Regions from separate parts of the Homo sapiens genome. Here regions 2, 3 and 4 are each linked to region 1. The links come from fine-mapping of genetic effects on gene expression. A gene starts in region 1. Each other region holds a variant in brackets. All regions are shown on one strand. Distances are between the middles of the regions.

What was found. PIP is the estimated chance that this variant, and not a neighbour inherited with it, causes the effect.
Region 2: its variant is fine-mapped to the expression of DIP2C in blood mononuclear cells (TOPMed, PIP above 0.99).
Region 3: its variant is fine-mapped to the expression of DIP2C in whole blood (INTERVAL, PIP 0.93).
Region 4: its variant is fine-mapped to the expression of DIP2C in cerebellum (GTEx, PIP above 0.99). The same link has a PIP of 0.9 or more in cerebellar hemisphere.

Annotation. Positions count from the first base shown.
Region 1 is chr10:685,112-693,213 of GRCh38, forward strand. It overlaps DIP2C (disco interacting protein 2 homolog C), which reads right to left and starts at 4,557. Exons shown (of 37, transcript NM_014974.3): 1 at 4,383-4,557. The coding sequence starts at 4,467. RefSeq lists an enhancer at 4,932-5,867.
Region 2 is chr10:498,360-506,461 of GRCh38, forward strand. All of the region lies in intron 1 of DIP2C (disco interacting protein 2 homolog C), which reads right to left. Among named protein-coding and RNA genes, the nearest start is that of DIP2C-AS2, 130 kb to the right of the region's middle. RefSeq lists an enhancer at 1,320-2,266. The variant G/T (reference allele first, on the strand shown) is at 3,359.
Region 3 is chr10:478,784-486,885 of GRCh38, forward strand. It overlaps DIP2C (disco interacting protein 2 homolog C), which reads right to left. Exons shown (of 37, transcript NM_014974.3): 2 at 7,676-7,747. Among named protein-coding and RNA genes, the nearest start is that of DIP2C-AS2, 150 kb to the right of the region's middle. The variant G/A (reference allele first, on the strand shown) is at 4,421.
Region 4 is chr10:537,512-545,613 of GRCh38, forward strand. All of the region lies in intron 1 of DIP2C (disco interacting protein 2 homolog C), which reads right to left. Among named protein-coding and RNA genes, the nearest start is that of DIP2C-AS2, 87 kb to the right of the region's middle. RefSeq lists an enhancer at 4,229-4,729. The variant T/G (reference allele first, on the strand shown) is at 4,690.

The DNA of each region.
Region 1 (8,102 bases):
CAACAAGAGTGAAACTTGGTCCCCAAAAAAAAAAAAAAAAAAAAAAAAAAATATATATATATATATATATATATACATATATATATATATATATATAAACACACGCACACAGGTCCCTCAACCAACACAGGAAGACCTGGCACGTGCGCGAGCCTTCACCTCCCTCTGCAAGCAGGTTCTCCCCTGCTGAAAAAACATTAGGCTGCACTACTGTGGAGCATAACTGCTCGCTGAAGGAATCGGCTACATTAACTAGCAGAGCAGAGCATGGAGGATGGAGTCAGTGGGCATGGAACACGCTGACAATTACCAAAGCCACAGAGTACAAAGCATGGCACCTATTTTTCAAAACTTCTCTTCCACCAAAAACCAACAATTTTTGCAGGCTATATTATGAGTTCTATCAAAATAATTCAGCACCTCCTAAACAAATGGGAAAGAGCTCCTTCTGAAGCATGCACTGCCCAAAAAGATCAGTGACCAGTCAACAGAGAAACTTACTTCCTAATTTGAATCAACAGCTAAATGCAATCTTTTTTAAAATAATAATAATAATAATAAGACATGAGTCTGGGCACAGTGGCTCATGCCTGTAATCCCAGCACTTTGGGAGGTCGAGGCGGGCGGATCACCTGAGGTAAAGAGTTCGAGACCAGCCTAGCCAACATGATGAAACCCCATCTCTACAAAGGTACAAAAATTAGCCAGGTATTGTGGCGGGCACCTGTAATCCCAGCTACTCAAGAAGCTGAGGCATGAGAACCACTTGAACTCAGGAGGCGGAGGTTGCAGTGAGTTGAGCTCATACCACTGCACTCCAGCATGGGAGACAGAGTGAGACCGTCTCAAAAATTAAAAAATAAATAAGACATGAGTTTGTCTTTATGGGGAAGTTTTCTGCTTCCACTCCAATTTGTTTGGCAATTCCATGTAAAGTATCAGTTATTAATGAAATTATTTTTAGGCCCTTTAAAGCCACAAAAAAGAATACCCAATTATAAAGGGCAAAAATGTAGGGAAGAGAAGGGAGAAGAAAATATTCTGGGGAAAGGAGTATGAGAAAGCAGCCGCCACAGCCCTCTCATTCCTTGACCCTCCCCAGAATGGAGCTCCAGATCACCTGGAGGCCTCCCCACCCTCATGGCCTCCTCACCTGCAGGGCCTCCTCAGCCACAGGGCCTCCGCACCCTCACGGCCTCTCCACCTGCGGGGCCTCTCCACTAGCACAGCCTTCCCCCCACGTGGTCTCCCCACCTGCACAGCCTCCTCACCCGAGGGGCCTCCGCACCCTCATGGCCTCCCCACCTGCACAGCCTCCGCACCCACACAGCCTCCCCACCCGCACAACCTCCCCACCCACACAGCCTCCTGACCGTGTGGCCTCCTTACCTGCATGGCCTCCTCCCTGGCTCACACTCAGACCCAAGTATGTGAGGAGATGACCCCCCTGGCCACACAACCTGAATGTATCCCCACATGGATTCGAGGCCATCAGCTCCCACAAGAGGGCTGCCCAGCACTTCTCCCCACAGAGAGCCCTTGTGTTTTGCTGGCCGCATGCTCTGTGGTGTGAGCTGGCCTCACCTTCCCCTGTGAGGGGGCACAGGGCACGGGACAGGGACAGGCAGTGGAAGAAGGATGGAGCCCTCGGCCCCGCAGCAGGAAGTGCCCCTGCAGCCCTGCAAAGCAGGACACCAGCAGTGCATGTAATGGCGCCCAGCAGGCGGGCACAGCAGAACTGGACCAGGGTCTAGAAACCCACACAATGCGTAACCCACGCAGGCTGGCAGCCCACACAGGAACCTCAGGGGAATGCTCTACTCTTTCCTTCAGTCTATGTTATGTGCTTAAAACGGAACTTTTTCCATCCTCCTCTGTAGGAAATGAGCACTGGAAATTCCACATATGTTTCTATAATATTTTCTGATATTTTAATAAAATGATGACAACCAACTTAAAGAATTCTCTCCACTTGAATTTTGATTGAAGATGGGAAATAATTCAGCATTAACAGCTGTTTTCAGCTTTCACTCTGAAAGCAGATACATTGAGGAATTTTTGAAGTCCAATAACATAAAGAAACACAGAATTTTGATCCTTCAATTCTTGGATTTCTATTAAGCAATACTGGAAAACAAGTTGATTCATCTAATTTAAGCCTGTAAAACTGTTTTATGTGGTTATGAGACAGAGAATTCCAAATGACCTTACAGCACTACCCCCATAAACTCAACCTGGGCAAACCCACACTTCACAGCAAAGTTAAAGACCATCCAGCAAACAGATGAGGCAGTGGGGCCAGCACAGGCCGGAGGGTGCAGAGAGGCTGAATAGAGCCACGGAGCAACCCTCTCACCCTTTCTTCTTAAATGTGTAGCTCAGATCTCAGCAAGATTCATGTGGAAGGAAAAATATAATTAGGCTTCCTGCATGCAAACACACACACCCCTTTCTCTGCCTGGTCTCTCAATAAGAAACTAACTCATTAAGCCCTTTTTAAAAAACCTGTACAGACGCAAGGTGTTCACAGGGAATTCGGCTGAGCACACCTTCGTCGAAAGTGGCTTTGCCATCATCTGGGCAGCAAGACAGTATCACTCACCCTCCAAGAGCAACTGACAGGCAAGTGTCGTCACCTCAAAAGGCCACAATGCCCAACACAGGACACCCATTCCCATAGACATCCCAGACTCTGGGAACAAATGTGGGTCCAACTTCTGGGCTAGCAGTGGGTGGGGGAACCCTCAGATGGGGCTCGCCCTGCTGAGCTCAGGGGCGCTACGCTCTGCTGACCTGGATGGGGCACTGACACTTCACATCAGTGTGATGCAGGCAGCACAGAAGCCCCTGTCCTGAGACAGCGAACACGGAGGGTGCTGCAGGCAGGGGTGCACCTGGGCCGAGACGCAAGCCGGGAAACCTACCCAAGGCTGACACAATCAGATAACCAGGGTGGGCCTTTTGCAAATGATACACTCCTTACCCACCAAACGAGCTGTCTGCACTGCACAATCTACTTACCAGTTTACATCCGAACCCTGCACACGGCAGCTCCCGCCTCCTAGCCATGCCCTCCTCATCCTCAGCTCCTCAGGAGGGCAGCAGCCAAGCCCACAGGCCTGGAAGACTCTGCCCCCCGCCAACTGTGTCACGTTACAGGACACTGACACACCTCGCGGAACCCCACATCTGAAACTGAAAAACAGTACCATTTCCCGTCCCCAGAAGTCTGGAAAGGCAGTTGGCTGCACACCATGGCCCCTGCTCACTCCCTTCTTTGCCCTGAAAGTGTTAAAAAGGAAAACATAAAGTCAACACCAGCTCCTCCCTGCCGGTGAAAATTGGCACGAATGAGTTTACTTTCTGGCTGCCGGCCCTCACAAAACCGTTACCCAAAAAAAGTTCACCATGCTAAACTGCTCCAAATATAAATGTGAGACGCGCCGGCCCACCCCCACCCCACCCCACGTTACAGGAATGGCCTGACCAGGATGAGCCCAGAGACGGCTAAATGCACATCAAACATTTCAGATTTGGGAACTTCAGTGGTTTTGGGGAAAAGACCTGGCAAAGCCCGATCTGAAACTTATGACAGTTGAGCACATGATCTCCGCCATGAAGAGCAAATAAGAGGCGTACACAACCCTCCATAAGACCGCGGTGGCTGATCTGCCACAAACCCTCCTACGAGAGGACCAGGACGGCAAGGCCGGAGCCCGGCCCGGGGGGAGGTTGACGATTCCGCCCAGCCCTCCCCGCGCAGCGCCCGCGAACAATGGGGGTGGGATCCCCCGGGCCGCGCCAGGACCGCTGCACGGCCTGAGCCACCAGAGATCGAACCCGGGGTCCAACGACAAGTTTCGCATTGAAATCTGGCCGGGCGTTCCAGGCCGAACCCGCCAGCGAGGAGGTGGCGCGCACCGCGCTGCTGCACCAAGGACGCCGCGGCTCCAGCGCAGAGCGCACGGGAAGGCCGATCCCGCCGGGCCCGCTGCATCCTGCGTCCCCGCGCGGCGCCCAGGCCCCACAGACACCCCCAGGGCGCGGGGGGATCGCGGCCCCACAAACATCCCAGGGCGCGGGGGATCGCGGCCCCACAAACACCCCCAGAGCGCGAGGGGATCCCAGGCCCCACAGACACCCCCAGGGCGCGGGGAATCGCGGCCCCACAAACGTCCCCAGAGCGCGGGGGATCGCGGCCTCACAAACGTCCCTAGGGCGCGGGGTCTGGGGGTCCGGGGGACGCGCACGCTCCGGGCTGGGGTCGCACCTCCCCCTCCGGGCCCGGCCCCCGCCCCGCCGCAGGCCCCGCGCCCCCAGCCCTCCGCGCGCGGCCCTCCCCGGTGACAGCGCGGCCCGGCCCGGGGCGGGGGCCCGGTTACCTTCCGACAGCTCCAGCTCCAGCTCGGCCAGGCGCGCCCGCACCTCCAGGGGCAGCGCCATGCCCTCCAGGCTGCGGTCCGCCATGCTCCGCGGGCGCCGCGCCCCGCACGGCCTCCTCTTTGTTCGCAGGCGGAGGTCTCGGCGGCTCCTCGCGCCCGGCGGAACCGCACCGAGGAGGAGGCGGCGGCGCGGGCGCGGGAGGCGGGCGGCGGGCGCGCAGGGACCTCCCTCCCCTCGGCGCCTCCTCAGCGCGGCCCCGCCACGGCCGCCTCGCGCGCCCCCGCGCCCCACGGTCCCCGGCCCGCCCCGCGCGCGCTCGGCCCCTCCCCGCAGGCGCTGCGGACCCGGACCCGGCCCTGCTGCTCTCGGCCCCGGCCCGGCGGGAGCGTCTCTGCGCGCGCGCGTCACGGGGCCGCGGGGGCAGGGCGCGCGCGCGCGGGGCGCGAGGACGCGCAGGAGCGGGAGCGCGCGGGGGGGCGCGCGGCCGCGTCGGCGAAGCGCGCGCTCCCGGGGGCGCGCTCGGGGGCGGGTTGGGGGCTCGGGGCCCGCGGGGCGGGGCGGGGCGGGGCGGTCTTGTCTGTCCTGGGCTCTGCGCGTCCAGCGGAGCCTGCGGGCCCGGCCCCAGAGCCTGGTCCACCCGGCTCCCTGCGAAAATCACGTCCTGGAGCCGCAGCTTGACGTCTGCGCGAAAACTCGCAGTGCCCCGGGTCTTGGAGGGCTGGTTTTTTGTTAATGAACATTTTAAGAGGCGGAGACGGAGCGCTAGGCTGGAAGTTTCGAATGCAACGACCAGCAGATGACCTTGAGCGACTCTGAGCCTTTGCCTGGAGGGTCAGTGTCCCCATCTGTGAAAAGGGGATGGGAAGACAAGGTTGGGTCACCTAATCTCCAAATGCCAGGTGGGCCCGAAAAGCCTGGCTCCAGCCCTCCCGGAACAGGCTGCAGGCCCCAGGGTTCCCACCGTCCTTCTCCTTGTGGGGCCATCAGCTCCCAGCCTCAGTGCCACCTCGGCGAGGCTGAAGCCCCGTCTGTGCCTCTAGTCCTGACCATCTGGGGAGGCCCTCGCATCTCCAACCGTCCACTGAGCAAACTTCCCTGGAAGCCCCTAGACACCCCAAACGCCACAAACCCTAAATGAAGCCAGCTGCTTCCAGTGACTCTTAGTCACTGGAAGTTCTGCTTCTCAGAACCGCCCCCGTTGTCTTCATCATCACCTTCCTCTGTCTCCACACATCCTCCCCAGTCTGTTGCACAAAGCCCCGACGACCTGGCCTCCTTTTCATCCTTGTACCCCCTCTTCCCAGCCCGGCCCCTCCCTTAGGCCCAGAGCTTCCTAAAGACCTCCTCGCCTCCCCGTCCTCCACGGGACATTGGCCAGCGCTGGCTCCCGGAGGCCCAGCTGCACTCACTCCCCTTTCAGAGTGGGCCGCAGGAACACAGGTCCCCCACCTCACCCCCCTACCCCTACCCCCCACCACCCCCCCACCCCGCTTCGACCGGAGCCCCCACCAGCCGGGACCCACCTGCACGGCAGCCTTGCGGCCTCCACACTCCGGCTCCTGCAAACAACGCGGCTGACCCGCAGCACCTCTGCTCCCGGCCTCCACCCCGGAGAGCCTGCCCCTTCTCTGCCCCTGCCACCCACAGCCATCCCTGACCCCAGGTCCAGAACAATCTCTCTCCTTTCTCTTCCTGCACCGGCCACTTCCCGCCCTCATCACGTTTGACCTTTTTTATCTTCTCTGTATTCTTTGTGAGTGTAAGCGCCTGGAGGACAGAGCCCATGCCTCACCCACCTTTGCCCTTCCCATGGATCTAGCAGTGGTGGCAACCGCCAGAGGTGTGTGCATTTCCTGTAAGGATCGGTCCTTTCAGTGGGGAATTGTGAGAATGACATTCGACGATGAGCTGGGAAACAGGAACCCCAAACCCGTGTGCTTCCTGCGCCGAGCCGTGTGCCTCCGCCTGGTGTGCGCCGTGGGTTCGTCCTTCGCTCCAGACTGCGTTCAATGCAACAGATACGGGTGGCACAAGCATGTGGCCCCACCATCATCTCTCCCCTTTGCATGATAAAGAGACCGACCAGCAATGCAGGGGCCGTGGGGAAGATCCCACACAGCCCCTACACGTCACAGATAAAAGTCCTTAGAGACAGAAAGGGGAGCAGAACCAGGATTCAAACCCCAGTCTCCAAAGCAAAGCCCTGAGTTCATTTCATTACAGCAAAGATGCACTGTGCATTCCAAGCAATAAATGGTGTCAAGTCCATTTAGGGCGGTATAATGTCGGAATAAAAAATATATATTCGCGGGCCAGGCACGGTGGCTCACACCTGTAATCCCAACACTTTGGGAGGCCAAGGCAGGTGGATCATGAGGTCAGGAGTTCAAGACCAGCCTAGTCAATATGGTGAAACCCCATCTCTACTAAAAACTACAAAAAATTAGCTGGGCATGGTGGCACACACCTGTAGTCCCAGCTACTCAGGAGGCTGAGGCAGGAGGATCACTTGAACCCGGGAGGTGGAGGTTACAGTGAACCGAGATCGCACCACTGCACTCCAGCCTGGGTGACAGAGCGAGATTCAGTCTCAAAAAAAAAAATACATATATATATATATATATATATATATATATATTCTTTTTGATGGGCCTTAATCATTTGCATATGATCCTATGACTGATGTTGGTTGCAAAGAAAACTTGTAATTTGCATTAAACACATCAATTGCAAACTCAGATTTTGAGCTGATGGTTCCTTTCAGCAGGTCTTTGGGCACCTACACATTACACGTGTGAGTGTGGGCTCTCGGTCTTAGACTGCCATTTCCAGGAGCCTGATAGATATCATCTTTATCTGGAACTCCTACCATCTCCTTGAAATTCATGCTGTCCACAATCAAACTCATCCTACCTACCAATACTTTCCCCCATGTACATTATTTCTGAGAGCAGCCTCCCTTTCACTTTGAGTCCCCTCAAGAACTTCTACCCACAGCATTTCTCTTGTGCGCCACCTGCTCCTGTCGAGGCCTCTGGCTATGGCCCATGTCAGGCCTTCAGAGCCTCCTTCCAGTCTTCCCACCACGGCTGTCAGATCACTCTTCTAAAAAGTCCCTCTTAGCACAGACCACAGGCCCCTTGCTGTACAACCCATGATTCTATGCCTGCAAACTGAAGAAATCCTTAATTGACACCAATGGTCTCACGAGCCCTGCACTAAACATTTCTCCTGCTTTCTGTTCCTCCCGTCTCTTTCAAGCTCCGAGGTTCAGCTGCAGAATTCCCAGCTGTCCATGGAGAGTCCCCACCTGTGGTGTCTGTTTTTCTAATGTGCTCCCTCCTGTCGTCTCCCCTTCCCCACAACCTGAGTCATAGCCGCACACGGAATTTCACCCAGTCCAGTCCAAGTTCAAACGCCACTTCTTCCATGCAGCCTTCCCAAATCTCCTGGTTAGAAAGATTCTCTCCCACCTGTGGAATTACACACCTCTTTATCCACCTGCTCTCCCTGGGATTGGTCATTTATGTGTGTGTTTTGTCTGGTGGCTGGCTTATCTATAATTGTCCCATTGTGTTGACTGACACCACAAACAGCATAGTGCCTCTGTCTGGAAGTGCAGACCAGCACAGGAGCGGAGAGGAGCAGCCCCTTCCTCGGTCTCATTCTGCTCCACCTGTGAGCAGCCTTGCGGAACGTGTGGTTGGTGAACACCTTGC
Region 2 (8,102 bases), 190 kb before region 1:
GGAAGTCCTCAGAGCCCCTTGAATCTCCACACCTGAGTGAACTAATTCCACTCACAATCAGCAGTCCGGGCCACAGAAGCAGGCGCCAGTGGAGATGCTTGCCTCCCCTCAGGGGTCCTGCTGACAGACCCCACCAGGACGTGTAGAACACAGCGCAGTCATGCTTCTTCCTCCCTGCTGCCCAGGGGGCTCTCTCTTAGGGGGCTCGTCAGAGATGCACCTCTGTCAAGGGATGACTGACTTCCATTTCATTTACCTGAAGTTTCTGCCCATTCCTTCCCAGAGAATATAATTTTTCAATGAAGAAGTCAGCTCACCTCAAGACTCTGGGCTCAAGCGTGCCCCAACCTCCATCCCCAAGTACAAAACCTCCTCTCAGCTCCAGCACACCTCAGGATGAGCCAGGACCCCACTCACCGTTTCCCAGTAACACCCCAGGCCTGAAAAAAGCTACTGCTGTGTGGGCGAATTAAGGAGGCAATGCGCATTTGTTGAGTCCTGCCAGCTAATTATAGATAAAACAAGCTTTCTGAGAGCTGTGAATGTGGATTTTCTATGGTGTTACTTATCTGCATGCCGGCATTTCTCACCAACGCTGCTCTGCACCGCACAGCACTGCTGACTCGGAGAACAACTTCTGCTTTCCTTGAGGAATTCTCAACCACCAGTTTTCATGCAAGGCACTGACTATGAAAACTTCAGTCCTATTATTTTGTTATCCTTTTTCAGACTTTGAAAATGGGCTGCTCAATGAGAACAGTATGGCTGAACCCCACGATGGTCACACAGCTGAGGTTCACCACACGCGATGCTGACTGACTCCTTGTCAGCATTGCAGCCCTGACCCCTCAATGGCTACACAGCTGAGGTTTCCCACATGTGGTGCTGACTGGCTGCTCGTTGGCAGCGCAGCCCTGACAGCAGCATTTGCACTGTCACCTTCTCCCTGTGTGGACGGCTGGGCTCCCCCTCTGTGGACCGCTGGGCTGCATCAGTCTGTTTTCACGCTGCTATAAAGAACTGCCCAAGACTCTCTAATTTATAAAGGAAAGCAGTTTGATTGACTCACAGTTACACATGGCTGGGGAGACCTCAGGAAACTTATGATCATGGCAGAAGGCGAAGGGGAAGCAAAGGCCTATCTTACATGGCGGCAGGTGAGAGGGAGGTGTGCGAGGGGGAGGACAGGACCTACTGAAATAGTACCATATAATATCTGACAGAGCAGCCAAGGGCTGGTGGCTGCAGGTCGCAGGAAGGGAACACAGTTACCAAAAAAACAGATCTCGTGAGATCTCCCAATCGCGAGGACAGCATAGGGGAATCCACCCCCAGGATCCAATCACCTCCCCAGGTTTTGCCCTTGGCATGTGGGGGTTATGGAAATTACAATTCGAGATGAGATTTGGGTGGGGATACAGAGCCAAACCGTATCATGGGCTTTACTAACACCATTTTAAAGGAACTCTGAAATGTCTAGTTACCATCTGCCAAATTGTTGACTTTATCATAGAGCAAGCATGGATATGCCAGCCCCTCGAACTTGTTAATAGCCTAGGTGCTGACTAGGACTTATCTCCAGTAACCTGACCCTGCCACAATGGGACTGGGGAAGGGGCCCCAACCCTAAGCCCAGCTCTTGCTCGGGTGGATTTTGAAGGCAGACAGGGCCACTGAGAGCAAGTTCAGACCCAGGGAATAAAACTAGGGCCCCCTCAGCAAGCGCAGACTCCTGCAAGCCTTCACAGCAGATGTGGGTTCAGCTGGGCCCTCCCCTACATCTGTACCTGCCAGGGACCCCTGCAGGCAATGTGCCAGCTTCCCTGACAACCACCTCTGTGCTCATCAGCGTCTGGGGCAAAGGTGGGTTCAGAGCCAACCCCTGGCCTGTCTCAGGAGCAGGGCCCATGGCTACTTCTGTGTTCTCTTCCTGAGACCTGCAGCCACCAGCCCTTGGCTGCTCCAGCAGACGTTATACAGTACTATTTCAGTAGGTCCTGTGACCCCACAAGTCCAGGATACATGAAGGGAAAGTGACTGCTCCTTAGTAATTAATCAAACAAATACTGCAGCTTTCACTTGGCCCTTGTTTGGGAACACTGTACGTGCCTAGGTTTTACACGAGAATTTCCAAATGCCATAGAAATTATCCTGAACTTTATTTCCTCATTCATCCCCCAAATATTTAATACCTATTGTGTGCCATGCAATGGACAGAGTACATAAAACAGAAATCCTACACAAAACAAAGTGCACACGAAACACAGACACAATATCACCAAATGTTCGCTGGATAAAAGATTTAAAAAGTTGTATTTTAACTTAAAATCTTTTAAAAGCTGGAAATACAGGGATGCTTAATTCAATGACTCCAATGATTTTCTTAAACAAATCACCTCATCTGGGTAAGCAATGGATAACAAAACAAGACAGGCCAGGTCCCATCAGGACAGGAATGACTGCGATGTCTCCCCCCATAGGTTTCAGGCTTCAGAAAATGCTAAGATCTTTCTATCATCCTTAAAGCTATTTTTTTTCTGACAACCTTGCTGTGTAAAATAATGGCTCAGTCCCAAAAAGGCTTGTAGTTAATTTAAGAGGCCTGAGGTTTTCTTTTGGAGAGCGGAGGGGGCAAATGACCTACCAGAAGTTATATGTAATAAGCTCAAGTTATTCCAGAGAAGTTTGTACACACATTATGACTTTCTCTGAGGCCAGTGAGCTGCGGGCAACCCTCCAGGAAACACTGAGGCTTCCTGTGCACTAATTCACATTGTGTCAAAAATACTGAGTTGCAGGGAGGAAAGCAGAGATGATTCCTGGTGCAACATGTAAATGTGGTAAGATTTTGATGGTTTCACTAGCTATTTAAATAATAATGTTGATAGTACACACTTTAGTTTGTGGAAACATCCTTTCTAGAAGATCTTGCCCAACCTTTATTAAGTGGCAATAATTAAGAATATACTTTATTTAGAAGGCAAATAAAGTAGAATGTATGCAGTCCTATACTCATTGATACATTATGAGTAGAACTTGTTAAGATCTCTGCTTTGCAATACCAACTTTTATGAAACAAACCTGTTTATGTAAGCACATATGTATTCAAGGATTTTTATAATAATATGTTTATGAAAACACATGCGTTGATACCATATTACCCCAATTATAGAGGGAAGATGAGAATATCTGATCAGAAAGAATGGGGAGGCTTCATTTAAAATGAAAAAAAGGTCAATAATCAAAGTGCAAAACCGATCGAAGAATATGATCGTATTACAAGGTGACTTGCAGAACAAAGCAGTCCAGACAGGCAAAAGGACTGGCACGGAGAAACACAACTGAGTGAAATTACATT[G/T]AATTCAACACATAGGCACCGCAATATCCATTCATTCAGGAATATGCGTTACACACCGACCACAGGCCAGGCACTGTGCCAGGTATTTGGCAATATCAGAACACAAAACATAAAACCTCTGCACCTTCGTGGCACTTCAATTCCTGGCCAGGTGTGCTGGCTCACACCTGTAATCCCAGTGCTTTGGGAGGCTGAGGTGGGAGGATCACTTGAGCCCAGGAGTCTAAGACCAGCCTGGGTAACATAGTGAAACTCCATTTCTACAAAAAACAAAATTAATTAATTGGGTATGACAGCATGCACCTGTAGTCTCAGTTACTCAGTAGGCTGAGGTGGGAGGATTGCTCGAGCCTGGGAGGTCGAGGTTGCACTGAGCTATGATTCCACCACTATACTCCAGCATGGGTGATAGTGACCCTGTCTCAAAAACATTCAAATTCCCACATCATAGTTTTTACAACACCAATATACCATGCAACCATCTCCCTGATAAGCCCAATCATTTACTGGTCAATGCACAGAATGTGAAGATATTATGAGGCACACACAGGAACTAAACCTACATGAATTTTTATCTTTTGCTAAAATGAGATTTGGGTGAACTAAATAAAACCACCATGAGTGTTCAAAGGAAAATACTTTTCAAGTGAACTGAAACAAAAATTAAAATCTATGAAATGCAGCCAAAATAATGATGGGAAGTAAGCTCATAGGACGAAAGGCTCATATTCGAAAAAAGTAAGGTCTCAGGTCCATAATCTAAGCTTCTATGTTAAACTCAAAGCCAGAAAAAGACATCATAATGAGCACAAATCAAAGAAACTGAAAACAGAAAGGAGGAAACTCAAGTCACACCAAAAGCCTACGTATAAAAATTCCCAAGGGATCTACAAAAGTCAGTCCTAGATCCAATACCTGAGTTCAGCCAAGTCACAGCACACAGTCAAAGTGTACTCTACGTATTGGCAATTAGTATTTGGGACCTAAATGTTAAAAACAACACTATTTACAGTAGCTGTATAAAAAACACTTAGGTATACATTTAACAAAGCACACAGAGGATGTGTATGAAGAAAACCACAAAACACTGAAGAAAGAAAGGAAAGAGCTACCTCAACTGAGCCACGAGTCCAAGGAGAAGCGGCAACACAGTCAAGACACCAATTCTCTCCACGTTGACCAACAGACTTACCACAACTCCAACATAAATCCCGCCAGGACACTGACCTGCGGACTTACCACAATTCCAGCATAAATCCTGGCAGGACACCGACCTGCAGACTTATTACAATTCCAGCATAAATTCCGCCAGAACACTAACCTGCGGACTTACCACAATTCCAACATAAATTCCGCCAAGACGCCTACCTGCAGACTTACCACGATTCCAACATAAATCCCGCCAGGACACTGACCTGCGGACTTACCACAATTCCAACATAAATTCCGCCAGGATGCCTACCTGCAGACTTACCACGATTCCAACATAAATCCCGCCAGGACACCGACCTGCGGACTTATCATGATTCCAACATAAATCCTGCCAGGACTTTCTGTAGATGCAGACAAGCTAAAAGTTACATGAAAGGGAAAGAAACAGGACAATAAACGTTCCAATTTAAAAACTGGCAAAGATCGAACAGACACTTCAATGAAGTGGATGGACATAATAAGCACTCGGAAACTAAAAGAACTGACCACAAAAGAGAGTGGCAGTGCTACTATACATAAATTTAACAAGCAAAATAAAACTACAAGGGAGAAACAAATGGAACCAAGGGCTACAAAGATGTATCTTAAAGCTGGCGGAAAACCATGGAAGTGTTCCTAGCCTCTTTCTCTGAGAGCACCACCTGACCATCCAGGAGTCGTCACTGACAGACCCAAAACCAGTGGGTGCTAACCACAGCTTCCACCCTGAGAGGGAAGAGTCATTTGAAGAACATCCAGCAATATTCCTTCGGCTCTTACCCCTCTGCTGTGCCAAACACCGAGTTAACGTTTGCTGGCCTCTATATGCACACTGAGGTCTGCATTTGTAACCGCATTTTTACATCTTTCAGGACAGGACAATCCTCCTTTGTCCCCTATGGTTTTCATCACGGTTCTATATACACCTGAAAATCTCTGCCGCCTACATCAGACGTTTTGTCTAAACCCATTACTGTGACTTACCCTAAATTTACAACCATTGATTTCAATTCCAAGTCCAAAGACTCATTTCCACAGTAATTATTTTACTCAGAAATTAAATTCCAGATTCCTGATCACACTTAAAGTCAACTGCTTTCAACTTCTGGGTTATAGATACAACTGGTCTAATTCTGTAACCTGAGAGGATTTCATGGAAATACTCTCTCTTCATCTCACGACACACACAGGTGGTAACTGCAGCCTTCAACCTAACTGCCTTCCTAACCAGAGCATGAAAGAGCAATAAAGAGTATTTATCCCCATCTCCTTGGGCTGGAGACCCACAGCGTATCAATCACTGTCAAATCACTGTTGTGCAAAAATCAGTTCCAACGCCCTGTGGAGAATAAAGGCCACGCTGGAAGAGGCACGCAAGGGAAACAGCCGTCTGCCATGGGGCTCCCACCCCCGAGACGGCAAATCCATGCAGGCGTGCCGAGGCTGGCCACCCGCTGATACCCTGCTACCATGGAACTATTCCAGGCACGAACTACCTGGAAGTCCTGGGAGAGAAACCCAGCACACAATGTTGCCGTCAGACCTGCAGGTGTGATCCCTAGCACAGCCACCTTAGGCCGGGAGAGCGAGGATGGGACTCAGAAGCTGCAAGATGACCATGCAGAGAAGCACCCACGGCTCCGTGACCAAGTCTGACCATGCAGAGAAGCACCCACGGCTCCATGACCAAGTCTGACCATGGAGAGAAGCACCCACGGGCTCCGTGTCCAAGTCACAAGTGACAAGATGAGACGCTTCCCGTGTTCCCATGTTCTGTCACTTTAACACTAAAAATTTAGTACATCTTACTGTTTCCTAAGAAAGCATAAGGCCTGAGTAGCAGGTGGCCGCTAACCTGGTTCTTTTCAGCTTCATAACAGAAGGCAATAGCTATATAAACCAAATCGCACTATGGCTGCATCACGGCTTTCATTGCATGTCAAACCCTCAGCTCCAGCGGTGCTGACCCCGTCATACTCAGAGAAGAGGTGAGCTCTTCAATCTCCATTTCTCAACACTCCAAGCTGTTTCCATATGAGCTCATGTGACTCTCAGTGCTAGGTTCGTTCATTCATTCATTCATTCATTCAGCAAAACCGCCGTGAACCCGCGGGATCCCCACCCTGCCCTCCAAGGGATACTATTCTGATGGGACCTGTGTCCACACCCATATTACTGCAGCCCAGCACCCTTCCCGGAACCGTGTGCATCTCCCCAAAAGAAAACTGTACAGAAAACGGCAACGGGTCCAGTCATGTTCCGAGGAGCAATTCCAATTGCTGATGTTTTAAGGCAACAGACTAATAACCGGCACCTCATCAACACAGAGTCACTAACTTCCCAGCAGTGTCTCTAGTCCCTCTACAAGGATATACAGATATACACGCAGGAGCTATCTTAGGAGGCAACAAGACGCTCTTCAGGAAACAGGAGAAAGCAAAACATTTGAGGAACGGACAGGGGCATCTCCACCTTCTACTGCCACAATTTGTGTGTTAGTGATCAAGCCAAGGTTCTCAACCTTTCCAATCTATTAACCCCCTGCCTGAGGCTCTCGACTGATCCCCAGCTGTACTTCCTGGCAATAAACAACCTGCCCAGCTGTGATTCCTGTGTGCACCTGACACCAGGGAGATGGAGCTGCCTGCCCAGCGGTGCTTCCTGTGGGTGCCCCTGACCCCACAGGAGATGGGGACCACCTGCCCAGCTATATTCCCTCTGTGGGCACCTGACACCAGGGAGATGGAGCCACCTGCCCAGCTGTGCTTCCTGTGGGTGCCCCTGACGCCACAGGAGATGGGGACCACCTGCCCAGCTATATTTCCTCTGGGTGCACCTGACACCAGGGAGACAGAGCTGCCTGCCCAGCTGTGCTTCCTGTGGGTGCCCCTGACACCACAGGAGATGGGGACCACCTGCCCAGCCATATTTCCTCTGGGCGCACCTGACAACAGTAGGATGCTGCATGTGCCTACACTGACAGCTACAGCATCATCTCCTGCTGTAAAAACTCCCTTTCAGAGGTAACAGGACAATGGGGCAGGTTTTCTCCTGGAGAAGTAAAGAAGCTGAGAAATCCAGGGGATTAGGAACGCAGGTGACAAAAGGAGGTTGTGACATCTACACGATGTCACATTTGGCAGCACAAGGGAGTGCTGGTATGTGCTGCTAGGTACTGTTATTCCCAGAACCACCTCACACTGCATGGCATTGACATGCTTCCCATGCTCGTTACCCTTCGGAAGACACATTTAAATAACCTTGACTTGCTGGGATGCAGCTGGAGAGAGATGCCTGGAGACCACCAGCCCAGAGTCAAGGCTCCATTTTCTCCTGCTTGCAGGACTTCTGCATGAAGCTAAGGCATCCAAATGTGCATAAGATTTATGAAGAGCAGACAAGCTGCATGACATCTTCTGAGAGGGAAGCTGTGCCATGTCAGGGGTTGGGACAGCAGCAGCAAGGGGGATCAGCCCAAGGCCTGGGGAGAGGCAGTTGGGAAATCTCAGTGTGTGTAGCCCTGGGGTCTGAGGCTTTCAACTGTCCATGTGGC
Region 3 (8,102 bases), 210 kb before region 1:
GATACATCCAAATTCCCATCTTATTCTCACTCATCGCGTGTCCGGGCGTGCTGGGGGTGCAGATAGCAACGTCTCTATGGCTCACCTTAGCTCCCAGAGAAGATAGGGGGAGGAAGAGAGGGGTAGGGAGGGAGGAGGAGAGGAGGGCCAAGAGGCTCTCCTGCCCTCCTTCCCCAGCACCCAGGGGCAAGCGCTCTGGGCTCCACAGAGGCCTCCACAGGAGTGTCCTGCAGGAGAAGCCTGCTCTGGGCCCTTAGTGAAACTGCCGGGGATTTTTCTGTATTTTCAGGTCTGTCCCAGAGCAGTTTCTAAATCCAGTCCCATTCTCTCCAGGTCTCAATTACATGCTCTTGTTCACATCGTAAAACTTTCTAAAATAAGTGCAATCAAGGACTTTGCCAGAAAGCAAACAGGACAACTGTTGTAAACACTGGTAAGAAATTTAATAATTTTCCTTGTATTCACTGGGATGGGAACATCATACAATGGTAAGACTGAAATTCCATTCTAAGCACCTGCCCTAACCCCATGAATTCTCACACTGCTTTTTTTTTTTTTTTTTTTTTTTTAAGATGGAGTCTTGTTCTGTTGCCAGGCTGGAGAGCAATGGCGCAATCTCCACTCACTGCAACATCTGCCTCCCAGGTTCAAGTGATTCTTCTACCTCAGCGTCCCGAGGAGCTGGAATTACAGGCACCCATCACGATGCCTGGCTAATTTTTAATATTTTTTAGTAGAGATGGGGTTTCAACATGTTAGCCAGGCTGATCTTGAACTCTTGACCTCATGATTTGTCCGCCTCAGCCTCCCAAAGTGCTGGAATTATAGGCATGAGCCAATGCGCCCGTCCCCACACTGTCCTCCTTTCTATCCATCTTTCATGAGCCCAAATCTTTGCCACACATCAGTATATATTTGCTTAGCAACCCTTTTCCTATTATAATGTTTTAACTTGATTAGGGACTCATACACTGGAAATTGTCAGTGATCCAGGGACGGGAGAGTCTGACGTCTGCATCTCATCCGCCAGCCTGAGCTCCAGTCGACGCTCACTGGATGAGGGTTCTCATCCGGCAGCCTGAGAGCCGGTTCACGCTCACTGGATGAGTGTCATCCGCCAGCCTGAGCTCCGGTCCATGCTCACTGGATGAGTCTCACCCGCCAGCCTGAGCCCCGGTCCATGCTCACTGGATGAGTCTCACCCGCCAGCCTGAGCTCCAGTCGACGCTCACTGGATGAGGGTTCTCATCCGGCAGCCTGAGACCCGGTTCACGCTCACTGGATGAGTGTCATCCGCCAGCCTGAGCTCCGGTCCACGCTCACTGGATGAGTCTCACCCGCCAGCCTGAGCCCCGGTCCATACTCACTGGATGAGTCTCACCCGCCAGCCTGAGCCCCGGTCCATGCTCACTGGATGAGGGTCTCATCCACCAGCCTGAGCTCCGGTCCATGCTCACTGGATGAGGGTCTCATCCACCAGCCTGAGCTCCGGGGTCCATGCTCACTGGATAAGACTCATCCACCAGCCTGAGCTCCGGTCCATGCTCACTGGATGAGGGTCTCATCCACCAGCCTGAGCTCCGGTCCATGCTCACTGGATAAGACTCATCCACCAGCCTGAGCCCCAGTCCACGCTCACTGGATGAGTCTCACCCGCCAGCCTGAGCCCTGGTCCATGCTCACTGGATGACGGTCTCATCTACCAGCCCGAGCTCCAGTCCACGCTCCTTGGATGAGATGCCAATCTCACCATCAGGACCGGGCCTTCACGTTTCTGCACTTTGCTTACACCTCGGATTTTTCACAAAACCCACGTGAGCAGTTCCAAAGTGGGTGCTACCCTCCCCACTGGAGACACACCGCATGGCGTAGGCTCAGCTGCACTCCCTCCATAGCGGCTGGCGCCTAAGACGAGGAATGCGATTCATTAAATGTTGCTGAAAAGACCAGGAAATAAACGTACGGGATCAAACTGACAGCTCCCTGTGGCAGAACACGTCTCCGGCAGCTAAGCGTGGTACCCTGTGAAGTGCCGACGGGAGCACGGCTGATCTGGAACACAGGTGATTCACCTGTCACTACAGCAACGCGGTCTAGAAAGATTCACGCTATGTCACAGGCAATGCCATCTGGACACCCACGTTTCCCCTCCTCTGGGATTTAAGTTTAAAACACCCTTACCCTGTGAGCTGCCACATGGCCTGAGACCCTAAGTGGAGGCAACCTGCCCGGGACAGGTCCCCGGGACCCTCCAGCCCAGGTGAGGAGGCGGTCCCTCCCCAGCACGTCTAGGAAGCGCTGCCTTGGGGTCACCAGACTGTAACTCTCATGGCACAACAAGAATACGGACCCACTGCGCACCTGCCCCGGGAAAGCACAGCCTCTGCTGACACGAGGAATCAGAACAACCAACGGCCAGCCCAGGTGAACAGGCCAGGGCCAGCCAGCCACGTCTTCTAAAGACGACAGAACAAAATGGCATTTACGTACTTAAGAAACTTTCTCATTCCGTATGTAACCAAAGTGCAAAATTCACAAATGCCAACTGCAGGGACCTCCTCCCTCACAACTGTCAAAGCCCAGTGGGAGAATCTGCAACGGGACCTCAGAGGAAGCCCTCTCCGTGGCGACAGGGCAAGGCAGCCACTGCAAGCAACAGCACTCAGGCCAGAGCAGCTGTTCTCATGAGAACATGTGATCCAGTCACAGGATCAAACACTGGGATGGGAGCCAAGTTCTGAAAAGATAATAAAATTCCACTGATTGGATGGTGCTGAGGTACATGTTACCCTCTGTCATTTCAGTCATTAATTAGCCCTTACATGTTACCATCTGCCATTTAAATTTACCCAAATCAAGAATAAAAATAAAACTGCAGCCCAGATAGACACCTGAGGCAGTGGAAGGTCTCCGGTGCCTGTTCAGGGCTTCACGTGGATCTGAGCATCATGCGGACACGGTGGCGTCTGCCCTCAGGGACACTGCACATCCATCCTCGTACCACGGTAGGGACGGTCACTCAGTGGGGCGGGGGGAAGTGAGGGCTGCCCCGGCCCACCCCCACAGGCAGACTCAGCCCCTCCGTGCCGCACCCACACATCCATACAGCAAATACCTGCCCAATGTCCACTTTCCGTGAGCAGGCAGCCGGGGCCTCAGGTGATTTACATACTGCTGCTGGGGGTTGGGGTGGAGACTTAGCGTTTAGTAACCACCACCCAACTATGACAGTGGTATTTCAGAGACAGGACGACATGGAGATGGGAATCCGGATGGTCTGACTGAAGGATCAGGGGAGAAATCCCTCAGGACAGAGCATCCAAACTGAGCTTTAAATGCCACCTGGACACGGCCAAGTGCACGGCCTGAGCAGAGTTCCTCATGTGGATGCAGCGGCATGGCTGTCGGGAGGGACAGCGGCGTGGCCATCGGGAGCCCTGGTAGCAGGGAGGAACTGAGACAAGTCCGTATTTGTGATTTGACTCAACAGTTGGACAGCACAGTGCAAGCCTGCAGGCCAGAGGCCTCCGGTGCAGACAGTGTAGAGCTTAACTCACACTGACCATGGGAGGCCTCTTCCTGGAGAGGCTGCTCACGCGACCCCATGATGGAAAAAGTGTGGGGCTTAACTCACACTGACCACGGATACCTCTTCCCTGGAGAGGCCGCTCACGTGACCTCATGGAGAGAGGCTGTGCCGCACAGACAAACCCCCTTACAGAGTCCTTGTAACTTGCACCTGGGCATCAAGCTGTCCGGCTATTGAAGGAAAAGCAAGCTGGGCTTGGAGAGGAATACCAGATCTTCATAAATCACTCAATACCAAGAAACATTTCACAGACAAACACATAAGAAGTTGCTGTGAGAAAGAGGAGCTGTATCTGAGCAAAGAAGGTTCCACCATTTATAGCCACACTGAAATTTTACTCTCTAAATCTCCACGGCCTGTGTCATACAAGCAGTGAGGCCTTGTTATCCAAGTCGACACTGTTATTAAGATCTCTCTGAAGAGGCTGCCAGGCAGTGGATTTTATTTCCTAGGTTTACAACTTTGACTGGGCTTAGAGACTGATGAGGGATGGGTTTGAACCGCAGAAGGGTGAGAGCGAAGTGGGCAGCTTCCCTAAGCAGCGTCTTCTCCCTGAAGATGATCTTCCAGGCACCCTCTCTGACCCTTCTTTCACTGCATGTATAACTCACATTTCTTCCTGGCTCCGGACAGTCTTTTCCTCAACTAGATTTAGGCAGGTGCTCAGCACCAACGCTCACTTCTGAATCCCGACTGGAGGCCCCGACAGACGCTGCCCTCCTGAGCAGCTGGGACGTGCCTGGCTGGCCTAGGGAACAGAACCCCCATTGTAGCTCGTAATTCTGCATCCCAAACAACATCCTAGAAACACTTTTAGAATAGTTTCTGGAG[G/A]AATAGGAATGTAAATGTTAGGAAAAAAGGGTGGAAGTTAATCAGAACACAAACCCCTTACAGGCAAGTGCGCAGCAGCACAGGGGAACAAGAAAGAAAGATGTTTTCCACGAAGATCCTGCACAAAGGAAGTCACGTCCCATGGGGCCAACCAAGAAAGCAGCCTCGGCTTTGGAAACGTCTGCGTTCCTTGCTGCTTCCCAGGACAGCTGCACATGGTGCACACTTGCGTGTCACAAGCAACGTCTCCAAATGAAGGTCGGCAGGGAAACAGCCTCGCTGGGGCCCTAGCACCGCTGTCCGGAGTCCCCCCATCCTGAGTCTGGTGTCTGGGCCTCAATCAGGCGGCCCGGGCCGTCCTTCTCCTGTTTTCCTCACGTTTCCGGCAGATAAATTCTGAAATGGACCTCGTGGCTAAAACCCAGCCCTGTCGCCTTCTCATCAGCTCTGCCCCTTGCTCCTGAGAGGGTGCGAGGGAATCAGCCCAGAGAGGGCTCCTGAGAGGGCCCAGAGAGGAGGAACGCAGTGGAGGCCAGGAGGCGAGGCGGGGTGTCCTCTTCTGAGACCCCAGTGGCCAACTGTAATAATAAAGTTTGCCTCTATGACTTCATTTTACCAATTTTTTTTTTTTGAGACAGGGTCTCGCTCTGTCCCCCAGGCTGGAACACAGTGCCACAATCATAGCTCACTGCAGCCTTGACTTCTTGGATTCAAGCAATCCTCCTGCTTCAGCCTCCCATATAGCTGGGATCACAGGCACCCACCATCATGCCTAATTTTTTCTTTTGTAGAGACGGGGACTCCCTTTGTTGCCCAGGCTGGTCTGAAACACCTGGACCTAAGCAATCCCCTTCCTCAGCCTCCCCAAGTGCTGGGATCACAGGCGTGAGCCACCACCCCCGGCCTTGTATGTGATTTTAAAACACATTTTGAAGTGTAACCCTGAACACGAACCTAAAACTTCCACCTGCATATGATTTTCTTCATTCTGGTGGAAAATGCACTGAACTCCCTTTTTGCATCATGAAATTCCTGTATTCAAAATACTGTCCGCCAAAGTAATTCTTACCTTTGAACAGAATCCTTACCTCTAAGAACATACTCTATGATTAACTGCTTTTTCTATTTCAAAAACCCTTACTTTGCTCTTTGGAGATGGAAATCTCAAAATCACTCCTTCTAGCAGATCTCAGAGGCCAAGACCCATCAGCTCATCCTTTAATTGGGTCTTTGGCTATAAGATGAAAGTCTGTAGAATACCAGTGGCTTTAAGAAGTTTTATAATTTGTCACGCATTCTTCTTAAGTGTTTTCTAAGTGGTGCCCAACTGAGAAAGGGGAATTGTAAAAGCAACGTTCTACTTCAATAGGAAACGCAGAACTGGGCCCTGATTCACAGGGACAGACCTGGTCTCTGGCGAGCTCTGGGCCTGTGGAGCGACCTGGCTCACTGGAGAATGGGACCCTCAGGCCCCCAAGGCCACACCCTACACGTCTGTACGGGATGGCACTCGGCGGGTGGCCCTTTTCTAATGTGTACCCTGCTGTGGGGCTGGCTCTCAGCAAAGCAGCGCTCACCGAAACGAAAGTAAAACAGAGGCCGGTTCCCTGCGGTGCTGGCCACCCGCTCCCGAGCCGCAGCTTCTCGGACGTCGCACACCCCGATGTGGGCAGAGCGGAATGTTCTCCTCGGCGCTCCTTCACTGTGCTGCAGTCTACACCGAACCACGGCAGCTCCATTCGCTGCTGTAACAAGTTGAAAAAAAACTAATTAATTCAAACTTTAGTTTTTTTTAAATTTGTTACAGCGCTGAGCAGAGCTGCCGACCCCATGCAGGACAGCACACAGACCACCAAGGGGACCACAGGGCACGACCGCCCTCTGCGCCCGGCTAAGGCCAGGGCCACCGCGGGAGGCACGGTGCGCTGGAGAACCGTCCTGGCAAGCGAGGAACCGCTTCTGTTTCACTTTTGTTTGGCAAGGCAAGAAAGTTAAAACCAACAGCGTCCGTGGCCTACAGTCAGACCCCACCTTCTGCAGCACATGAGGGCACCTGCAGAGGGGAACTCACAGGGACAGGGCGGGGGCAGCTGTCGCCCCATGGCTCTGCGAGAAGAGAATGAGGGAGGGGGCGCAGGCCATCAGGGGATCTACCCAGCACTGCCCTGAAGCCTCTCGCCCCAGCATTCCAGCCCAGCCCTCTGCTCCCCTTCTCTCGGGTTCCTCGGCGTCTATCCCTGACTTAAGCCTCTGCTAAGCAAGGTCCACAGAAACATGTTCACTGTTACATCACTGTCTCAAAAATCAAGGCAAGAAAAACACGAAATGAAAACAAAACTACCAATAGCAGAATCTCCACACCGTTTCCTGCAGCCTGAGCCTCAGGAAACTTTCCTTACTGAGTCAACAGGACCCGGACGGGCCTCGGGAAGAACAGAATCGGGGTTTGTGCAGGTGTGGACATGTGCATCCTTAAACCTTCTAAAATCTTCTTTCAATGGTAAGAACTATGCAAGTTCAATTTCCACCTTTAAAATTTATGTTGCTAGCCTTTATGTTTGAGGAAGAAACTGCTTGTGTTAGCTTTAAGCCATTCCTCAAGCCTACCAAATTTTCAAGGTCGCTCTTGGGCTGAATTGAGCTTGCCAGCTGGGAACTGAGGTGCTAGAATCCCCATCTAATATGAGATTCTTTTTCCTGACATTTACAGAACCCAGCTCAAGTGCAGGAAAGCTGCCAATCTGCACACGTAGAAACGCTGGCGGGAAACCGACTGCCCTTCTCAAGAATCATCATGGATGTTTGCAACCACATCTCAACACACAACCAGCTTTCACGATTGCCAAGTCCTGGGCGGGGTATCACAGCACTGTCTAGATTTGGCCTGTGCCACCAACAGAAGCCTTGGATTAAACCAGAATCAATAGTAATAAATAGCTCTCTAAACCAAATATGTTGAAATCACTAATGCACTCATATTTTTACGATTATAGCATTTTAAAGTAACCAACCCAATACCGATCTCTACTTATAGAGAAAACACCTATTAGGCACACTTATAGAAAAATCCTCTGTGCCTTGTATATTCACACAGCACGTGTGATCACTCAAAGGAACTGAATGCCTGGAGGGTGAACGCCAGACGCCTCCTCCTGCCGACTGGGAAGCAAGGGAGCGTCTGCCTCCAGATGTTTCTCTGGCACATAGTGAATGCGGGAAATGAGAGGACTCATGCTACTCATGGGGGTTACCTACTCGGAGGCTGCGGAAGGTAGGCTCCAATTAACTTTGACCTCTTCTTTTCATATCCTTTTTGTGTGATGTCACCTGCAAGAGAAGGAAAATGAAGTTCAGTATGGTCTCCGTGGATAGAGCATTATCATTCAACGGTGCCCAAGAAGACACAGTTATCACAGTATCTTCTGTGTGCCTCATTGTTAGAATTTTAAAAGCAAGCACTGCACATCAAACAACTTCAGTTCCTCCCCTGCTCTCGAACAAAAGCCCACAGCATGTAAGTCACTAAAACTCATTTGTTAAACACACGCCTGTTTCTGGCCCCTTCTGTATTTATCCGGATGGGGTCCAGGGTTAGACCCCTGCCATCTCATCCCCACCCGCTGGCACAGGAAGCCAAGCCTGGTGGCCGGGGCTCTCGTTAACTCAGTCAACGACAGATCCT
Region 4 (8,102 bases), 150 kb before region 1:
CAGCATCTGCCCCCCACACATTTGTCCCCAGGGCACCCAGCATCCTGCCCCCCGTCCCCCTCCCCCGCACACTTGTGCCCAGGGCACCCAGGACACGGGTATCACCCATGTTTCAGCCAGGCTTGTGTTTCCCCCATTAACATGACAACAGGAGAGGGATGAGGGAAGACACGAGACACAGGCTGGTAAGTCAACTCTAGGTGGTGCAAACCCATTGCTCTGGCAATAAGCAAAGCTCTTGGGGTCTCCCTAAATATCGAGCAGTTATCTTTCGTCTGCGAATTTTTTTTTTTCCCCCGAGACCGAGTCTCGCTCTGTAGTGCAGGCTGGAGTGCAGTGGCGATCTCGGCTCACTGCAGCCTCCACCTCCCAAGTTCAGGCGATTCTCCTGCCTCAGCCTCCCAAGCAGCCTGGATTACAGGCACGCGCCACCATGCCTGGCTATTTTTTGTATTTTTGGTAGAGACAGGGTTTCTCCATGTTGGCCAATCTGGTCTTGAACTCCTGGCCTCAAGCGATCTGCTGCCTCGGCCTCCCAAAAGTGCTGGGATAACAGCCACGAGCCACCGTGCCTGGCTGTGAATGTATTTTAAATTTTTAAGCTTTTTGTTTCTAGACTCTGTATCCTCTGTGGATAACAAATGCTTCCCGAGGAGTTTTCTTTGGGACAGGGTCTTGCTCTGTCACCCAGGCTGGCATGCAGTGGCACAATGATAGCTCACACCAGCCTAAAACTCTGGGCTTCAGAGATCCTTCCACCTCCCACTCCCAAGTAGCTAGGACTACAGGTGTGCACCACCACACTCGGCTAGTTCTTTTTTGTAGAGATGGGATCTTGCTATCTGGTTGCCTAGCCTGGTCTCAAACTCCTGGCCTCAAGGTATCCTTCAGCCTTGGCCTTCCAAAGCCCTAGAACTATAGGCATGAGGCATGAGCCATTGTGCCCAGTCTCCTGAAGATTTTCATCATAAACAGGTGCCACAATCCTGGACTCTTCCAGTCCGGACCGTACAGGGGCTAGGGTGAGAGAGGGATGGTTCAGGGTCTCAACGTGGAAATGATGGGGCCTGCCTGTGCTCTCAGATCTAAGTCAATGTTGTCAGCCTCTGGGTTTCAGTGTTTTGGGTTTTTGTTGTTGTTCTCTAGCCAAACTTAAGAACCTCACAAATAAGTCTAAGAACCTCAAATTACCCAGGAAGGGATATAAACATTCTAAGGTTCTTATTGAAAACGTTTCTTTTTAACAAAAGATAACTGTACCTATTAATACTATCACAATTCTAAATTATATCAAAAAAATTGTAAGCACTGGGTAATATGACTTTGAAAAATGTGCTCACTAGCAAAAAGCAGCACATAATTTAAATGTACATGACTACTAAGAACTTTTTCTGTGTTCATGAATCTGCTATATGAACCTCAGTTGTGAGTTGTCTGTTCATGTCATTCCGTGTGTTCTGTGAATCTGCTGTATGACCTCAGTTGCGAGTTGTCTGTTCACGTCATTCCATGAGTTTTGTGAATCTGTTCTACGAGCTCAGTTGTCTGTTCACGTCATTCCGTGCGTTTTGTGAATCTGCTATATGACCTCAGTTGCGAGTTGTCTGTTCACATCATTCTGTGGGTTTACTGAATTCCTATGGCATTTCTCATCAATTAAGCAAACCTTTCATAGAGTGCTCATATTAATCCTTTAATCTTTGCTGTATTCGATTCTTAAATATTTATTTTGCTTCTAGAGTTTGTACTCTATCCTGGGGTTCCAGGCCTGTGGATTCAACCAACTATAGATCAAGAATATTTTTTTAATGTGTTTGTACTAAGCATTCAGACTTTATTATTCATTAAACAATATAGTTTAACAACTATTCACATGGCAAGTACATGGTATAGGTGTTATGAGCAATCTTGACATGACTGAAAGTCTACAGGAGGATGTGCATATGTCATATGCAAACACTATGCCATTTTATTCCAGGGACCTGAGTGCCCACAGACCTTGGTATCCATAGGCAGTCCTGCAACCCACCCCCATGGGCACTGTGGAATGGCTATAATAGAAAATATAGAGGTTTTAAAAAGTTATGTACTAAATCTAATCTTTTGTTAAGAAATTACTGTGTGTCACGTGTATTATTTGGAAGTCGTTCCTGGTCCAGAGACTTGACATGTTCTTATCTTTTTGTCCACTGATCTAACTAGTCATTCCAGTAAGTTTATTGAACACAAATCAATTTTACAATTAAATTCTTAAAGGAATCACACTCATACTGTAAGCTGCTTTGGTTTTTAAAGTGAAATAACAGTTTTCAAAAACAGCTATATCATAGAATAACAGGATAAAGCAGACCTACAATATGCAAAAACATGGGATTTCAACGCTAACCAGTATAAAACACATTACAAACCCCTAAATATGAAAATGTTTGACACCACAGATATTCCAGAAAAAAACAAGATGATCAAAAAAGCCATTTGCAGAAAGCCACTTTCCCCTTCACTTTTCACATGGTTTCTAGAAACTTGTGTTTGGCAATAACCATGAATCAGAAGCAGCATCCACTGCAACTACTGCTACTGCAACACAGAATATTAAAGCAAAATAAAAAGGACACAGCATATTTCCTATTTATGAGAACAGGTAGAGTGTTATAAAAATGATGTGCGTGTTTTAAAGTCAACAATGTTCAAATTCTAGGTCTCCCGCAGACACTAGACGGTAACCGCCAAAGCTTATGTACTTGGAAACTTTCAAGGAGACCAAGTTCAGAGCTGTCACAACGCAGCACCATCCTCACACAATTATCTCAGGTGTGTTTGAGGGCAAGTGCCCCCGTCACAGGGGGAAAGCTGCCCGGCCCAGCACTTCCTGAGATCACACAGAGCTTCCACCTTCCCACATCTTCAATAGTTCCTTTACACTGGGAACCAGAGAGCAAAACCTAAAACACTTCCTCAAATCTCAAGACAGTCTTGAGTCCTCTTCTCCTTGCCCCTTCTCTCACTGAAAAAGCCTATTCTATAAGCAATCTGTAGTGCTTACCAGAGCTGGGGTAGGAGGAAAGCTAGTGTTTGGTAGACCAAGTTTCAAGCTTGGGGAGACCAAGAATATGGCGGTGATCGTGGCATGACAGTGTGAACGCACTTAATGCCACCAAATCGTACACTTAAAAATGGTCACAGTGCTATGTAATTTTACCACAATAAAAAGACTAACTGAGAAAAGTAATCTCTAATTACTGTCTGCCATTTCTTGCATCCTGTAAGGTGCATTTGCTTTTGGAAATCCTCAGAGCAATCATGAAAGACTAATACCCTGTCATCTCTGAAACACAGGTAAAGTCTTTCAAGGGTTTTGATTATAGTAAAGTAGCTGGAAAGCAAAGCATGCATTAGACACAGCAGCCGTGATAGGACAAACACATGGTAGGAAGGTGGTGGTCGTGCTACACGCAGATGGGGAAGGATGTGGGGAGCCACAACACCCGATGCTGGGGAGCCACAACACCCGATGCTGGGGAGCCACAACACCCGATGCTGGGGAGCCACAACACCCGATGCTGGGGAGCCACAACACCCGATGCTGGGGAGCCACAACACCCGATGCTGGGGAGCCACAACACCCGATGCTTGGGAGGCACCTGGGCAGGAGCTGAGAATGTACCAAACACGTTCTACCACGCAACATTCATGGACCCTGAGTCCGGCCACCACCGCCGACATCCACTCTGGCTGAGGTGTCCTCTGTCACAGACACACACACCCTGCCGAGGACAGTGCACAGGTTAAATGTCAAAGCACAGACATGCTCAGGTCCAGCTGCTCAGCCAAAAGCAAAAACACATTTCCCAGACACCACAGCTTGACCTTCCACCTGACCACACCCATCTCTCCTGCACCCCACATCGTGACCCTCCACCCGACCACACCCGTCTCTCCTGGACCCCCCCGAGTGACCCTCCACCCCCATATCTCTCCTGGATCCCACAGCATGACCCTCCACACTGACCACACCCATCTCTCCTCGACCCCACAGTGTGACCCTCCACCTGAACACCCCCATCTCTCCTGGATCCCACAGCGTGACCCTCCACATGACCACACCCATCTCTCCTGGACCCCACAGCGTGACCCTCCACCCGACCACACCCGTCTCTCCTGGAACCCCAAGAGTGACCCTCCACCTGACCACCCCCATCTCTCCTGGATCCCACAGCATGACCCTCCACACTGACCACACCCATCTCTCCTGGACCCCACAGCGTGACCCTTCACCTGACCACACCTGTCTCTCCTAGACCCCACAGCATGACCCTCCACCTGACTGCACCCTGTCTAGTGCATCCCTGCACCTGTCTCTCGGCCCCCCTCACCTCACTTCCTCACCTTCTCGTCGGGTCAAGCACCAACAATCCGCTGTGTGCCTGGTGCACTGAGCCTTGTCAGGGGCCTCTGGGCCGCGTGCCAGGACACGCCCCTGGGGACTCCCAGTGCACACGTTGGTCTCCTGCACACTTGGCTCTTCTATCTGCGGGAGCCGGCACCCACCCCTACAACTGACTGCACTCTCAGAAAAGTCCCAGAAGACCCCTCACCAACCCAGCAACACCTTGAGGCCACATCCCACTTGCCTGCTGGCTCCTGAACCTCCCCCACCCTGTGACGGCTCACTCCCTCCTGAGCTCCTTC[T/G]GCTCCCTGCCTGCCTCTGCGAGTTACCTCCTGGGCGATGCCAGGTGACGGTAACATCAACCAGGAGGCACTGCTGAGAAGCAGAAAGCATGGTGCAGTGCCCAGAACGTCATGTCCCTCAACAGATGCTCTATGTCTTCTCCTCCTCTCCTGGCAGAGCTTTGCTGTAGGAAGAAGGCCATTCCTCCAGTGCTGCTACTTCCAACACTGGGGAAAACAAGCTTCAGAAAGGAACGGTGTCAAAGAGGCAGGACCCACCAGCAGGACTGCCAGCGGCCAGACGACCACAGCCCCAGCATTCCCCAGCCACTACGGCCGACAGCCCAGGCTCCAGAAATGCACAGCTTCAACCTTCAGAGTAAAAACCCTCCCAAGCCAACTATTTCTTCAACAATCGGATTGGGGAATGGAGGGTTCTAACCCTGCCCCTCTCTATACCACAGATCATCAGATCCCAGTTCTTATCAGATTGGGAAGTGGGGGGTTCTGACCCTGTCCCTCTCTATACCACAGGTCATCAGATCCCAGTTCTTATCGGATTGGGGAGTGGGGGGTTCTGACCTTGTCCCTCTCTATACCACAGGTCACCAGATCCCAGTTCTTATCAGATTGGGGAGTGGGGGGTTCTGACCCTCCCCCCTTCTCTATACCACAGATCATCAGATCCCAGTTCTTACGGGATTGGGGAGTGGGGGGTTCTGACCCTGCCTCTCTATATACCACAGATCATCAGATTCTAGTTCTTTTCTAAGCCCAGCACTTTGCTTCTGCCACATGCAGTCATCCTCAGCACCAGGAAAAGTCAAACATTGAGTGATGACGATGACACCAATACCAAAAGTCAGAAACATTGAGTGATGATGATGACACCGATACCAACACATGCGGCTCTGGCAGCTTTGGTAACTCGCTGCACAGATACAACTGGACAGCAGTGAGATCCATGGACATCACCAGTCTTCGCAAGGATCGTGTTCCTGAATCTTCTGCGTTAGGAATAACCGTCTCCTTTGCAAGGGCTGAACCATGCTTCCCACTCGCCTGTCCTCTGCCTTCACCAGCTTTGTGCGCATTTCCGGGCAAGTGTCTGTGCAGGTGCCATCACTGATTTCAGTAGCGAGAACGTACACAGACACCACACAGAAATGGGTAACCCTGTTAGGAGCTGTGCAGGGAGATCTAACTCATCAGATGTGCCAAATTCCTGTTGCCATGGAAATTAAACTGACGTTGCCGTGACCACATCTCTTACTGCACCACTAAAGACCATCTGGGTAAGAGGAAAGTGCTTCTGCAGAGCATTCAGCTCACGTTTACATGTCCGTTTTCCCTGAATACGGTTGTTACGTGAGATAGAAATCAGTAAGATAGGCTGTAACATATAGTATGGATCGTTGTGTCTCCTAGGCTCAAACACATCCTTTAAGATCCTCAGAAAATGAAGTTTAACTCTCTGGGGACATGAGTTACATAGTAACATGTTTTGGATACAGTCTCTTTCGCATTCTAAATATCAACACCAAATAAGTTCTTTAGTTTCTTTTTACATTGAAAAGCATTTACAAACCATAAAATCCCCCATATTAAAGGGTACAATTCAGTCTTTTTAGCATATTCTCAAAGCTGCACAACAATCACCACTAGTATTTAATTCTGGGACTTTTTCACCACCCGCAAAAGAAACCTTGAATCCATTAAGAGTCAGCACCTGCTGCTTCCTTCCGCCAGCCCCTGGCAATCGCCAGCCGACTTCTGTTTCTCTGGATTTGCCCACTCTGGACGCCTGTCGTGAGTGGGCACATAGTGCGTGACCTTTGACGTGACCTTTGGTGCCAGCATCTTTCACGTTCAAGGTGACTGGTATCGTACAGTGCGTGACCTTTAGCATGACCTTTGGTACTGCCATCTTTCACATTCAAGGTGAGTGGAATCGCACAGTGCGTGACCTTTGGTGTGACCTTTGGTGCCGGCATCTTTCCCGTTCAAGGTGAGTGGAATTGCACAGTGCTTGACCTTTGGTGTGACCTTTGGTGCTGGCATCTTTCACATTCAAGGCTCATTGGAGCACATGTTCTTTTGTTCCTTTTTACGGCTGAGTGATACTCCATTGTGTGCAAATTTTCTTTATCCACTCATCTGTTGACAGACATCTGGGCTGTTTCTACTCACTGTTACGAATAATGCTGCTATGAAGATTCTTGCATAAGATTTTTTTGTAAAAACGTTTTCAGTTTTCTTGGGCATATGCCTGGGAGTGAAATTGCTGGGTCGTACAGTGATTTTATGCTTAACTTTTCTGAGGAACTGCCAGACTTTTCCAAAGCAACTGTACCATTTTCCTTCCCCTCCCACTAGCAATATATACAGATTCCAATTTTCCCATCTTCACCAACATGTCACCGTCCAGTACTGGGGTTTTACCCATCCCAGTGGTTGTGAAGTGGTATCTCACGGTGGTTTTCATTTTCATTTCTAAGATGACTAATTCTGTTAAATATCTCATGTGCTTTTTAAGGCATTTATGTATCTTTCTTTGGAGAATGTCTATTCAAATCCTTTGTCCATTTTTAAATTGGATTTTCTTTTCATTGCTGAGTAAGTTTTTAAAGATATTCTTGATATCAGGCCCTTATTGGGATAATGTGTCTTGTTCTGTGGGTTGTGTCTTTTTACTTTAATAGTAACCTCTGAAATGAACATTTTTAATTTTGATACTGTCTTTTCCCCTTCAGTTGCTTGTTATGCTTTAGACATCTCATCTAAGGAACCATTGCTTAATTCAACGTAACAGTTTCACCTGGATTCTCCCCTAAGGGTGTAATGAGCTGAACTGTGTCCCCGCAAGATTCCCATGTTAAAGCCACAACCCCTAGAAACTCAAAATGTCACAGGGCCTTTAACGTGACAATTTAGGTCCCATAAGATCTTAAGAGTAGGCCCTGATCCAACATGACTGGTGTTTTCCCTTTTTTTTTTTTTTTTTTTTTTTGAGTTTCACTCTCTCTGTCCAGGCTGGAGTGTAGTGGCATGACCTCAGCTCACTGCAACCTCCGCCTCCCAGGTTCAAGCAATTCTCCTGCCTCAGCCTCCTGGGCAGCTGGGACTACAGGCACCTGCCACAACGCCCAGGTAATTTTTGTAGTTTTAGTAGAGATGAGGTTTCACTGCTGATCTGTAACTCCTGACCTCAGGTGATCCACCCACCTCGGCCTCCCAAAATGCTGGGATTACAGGTGTGAGCCACCACGCCCAGCCATGACTGGTGTTCTTATAATAGAGAATTTAGACACACAGAGTCCTCAGTGCTGCACACACATAAGAGAAACCCATGAGGACACAGAGAAGACGCCGTCTACACAGAATGGGGTGAGGACCCGGAGGATCGAACCCTGCCTGCACCTTGACCCCAGGCT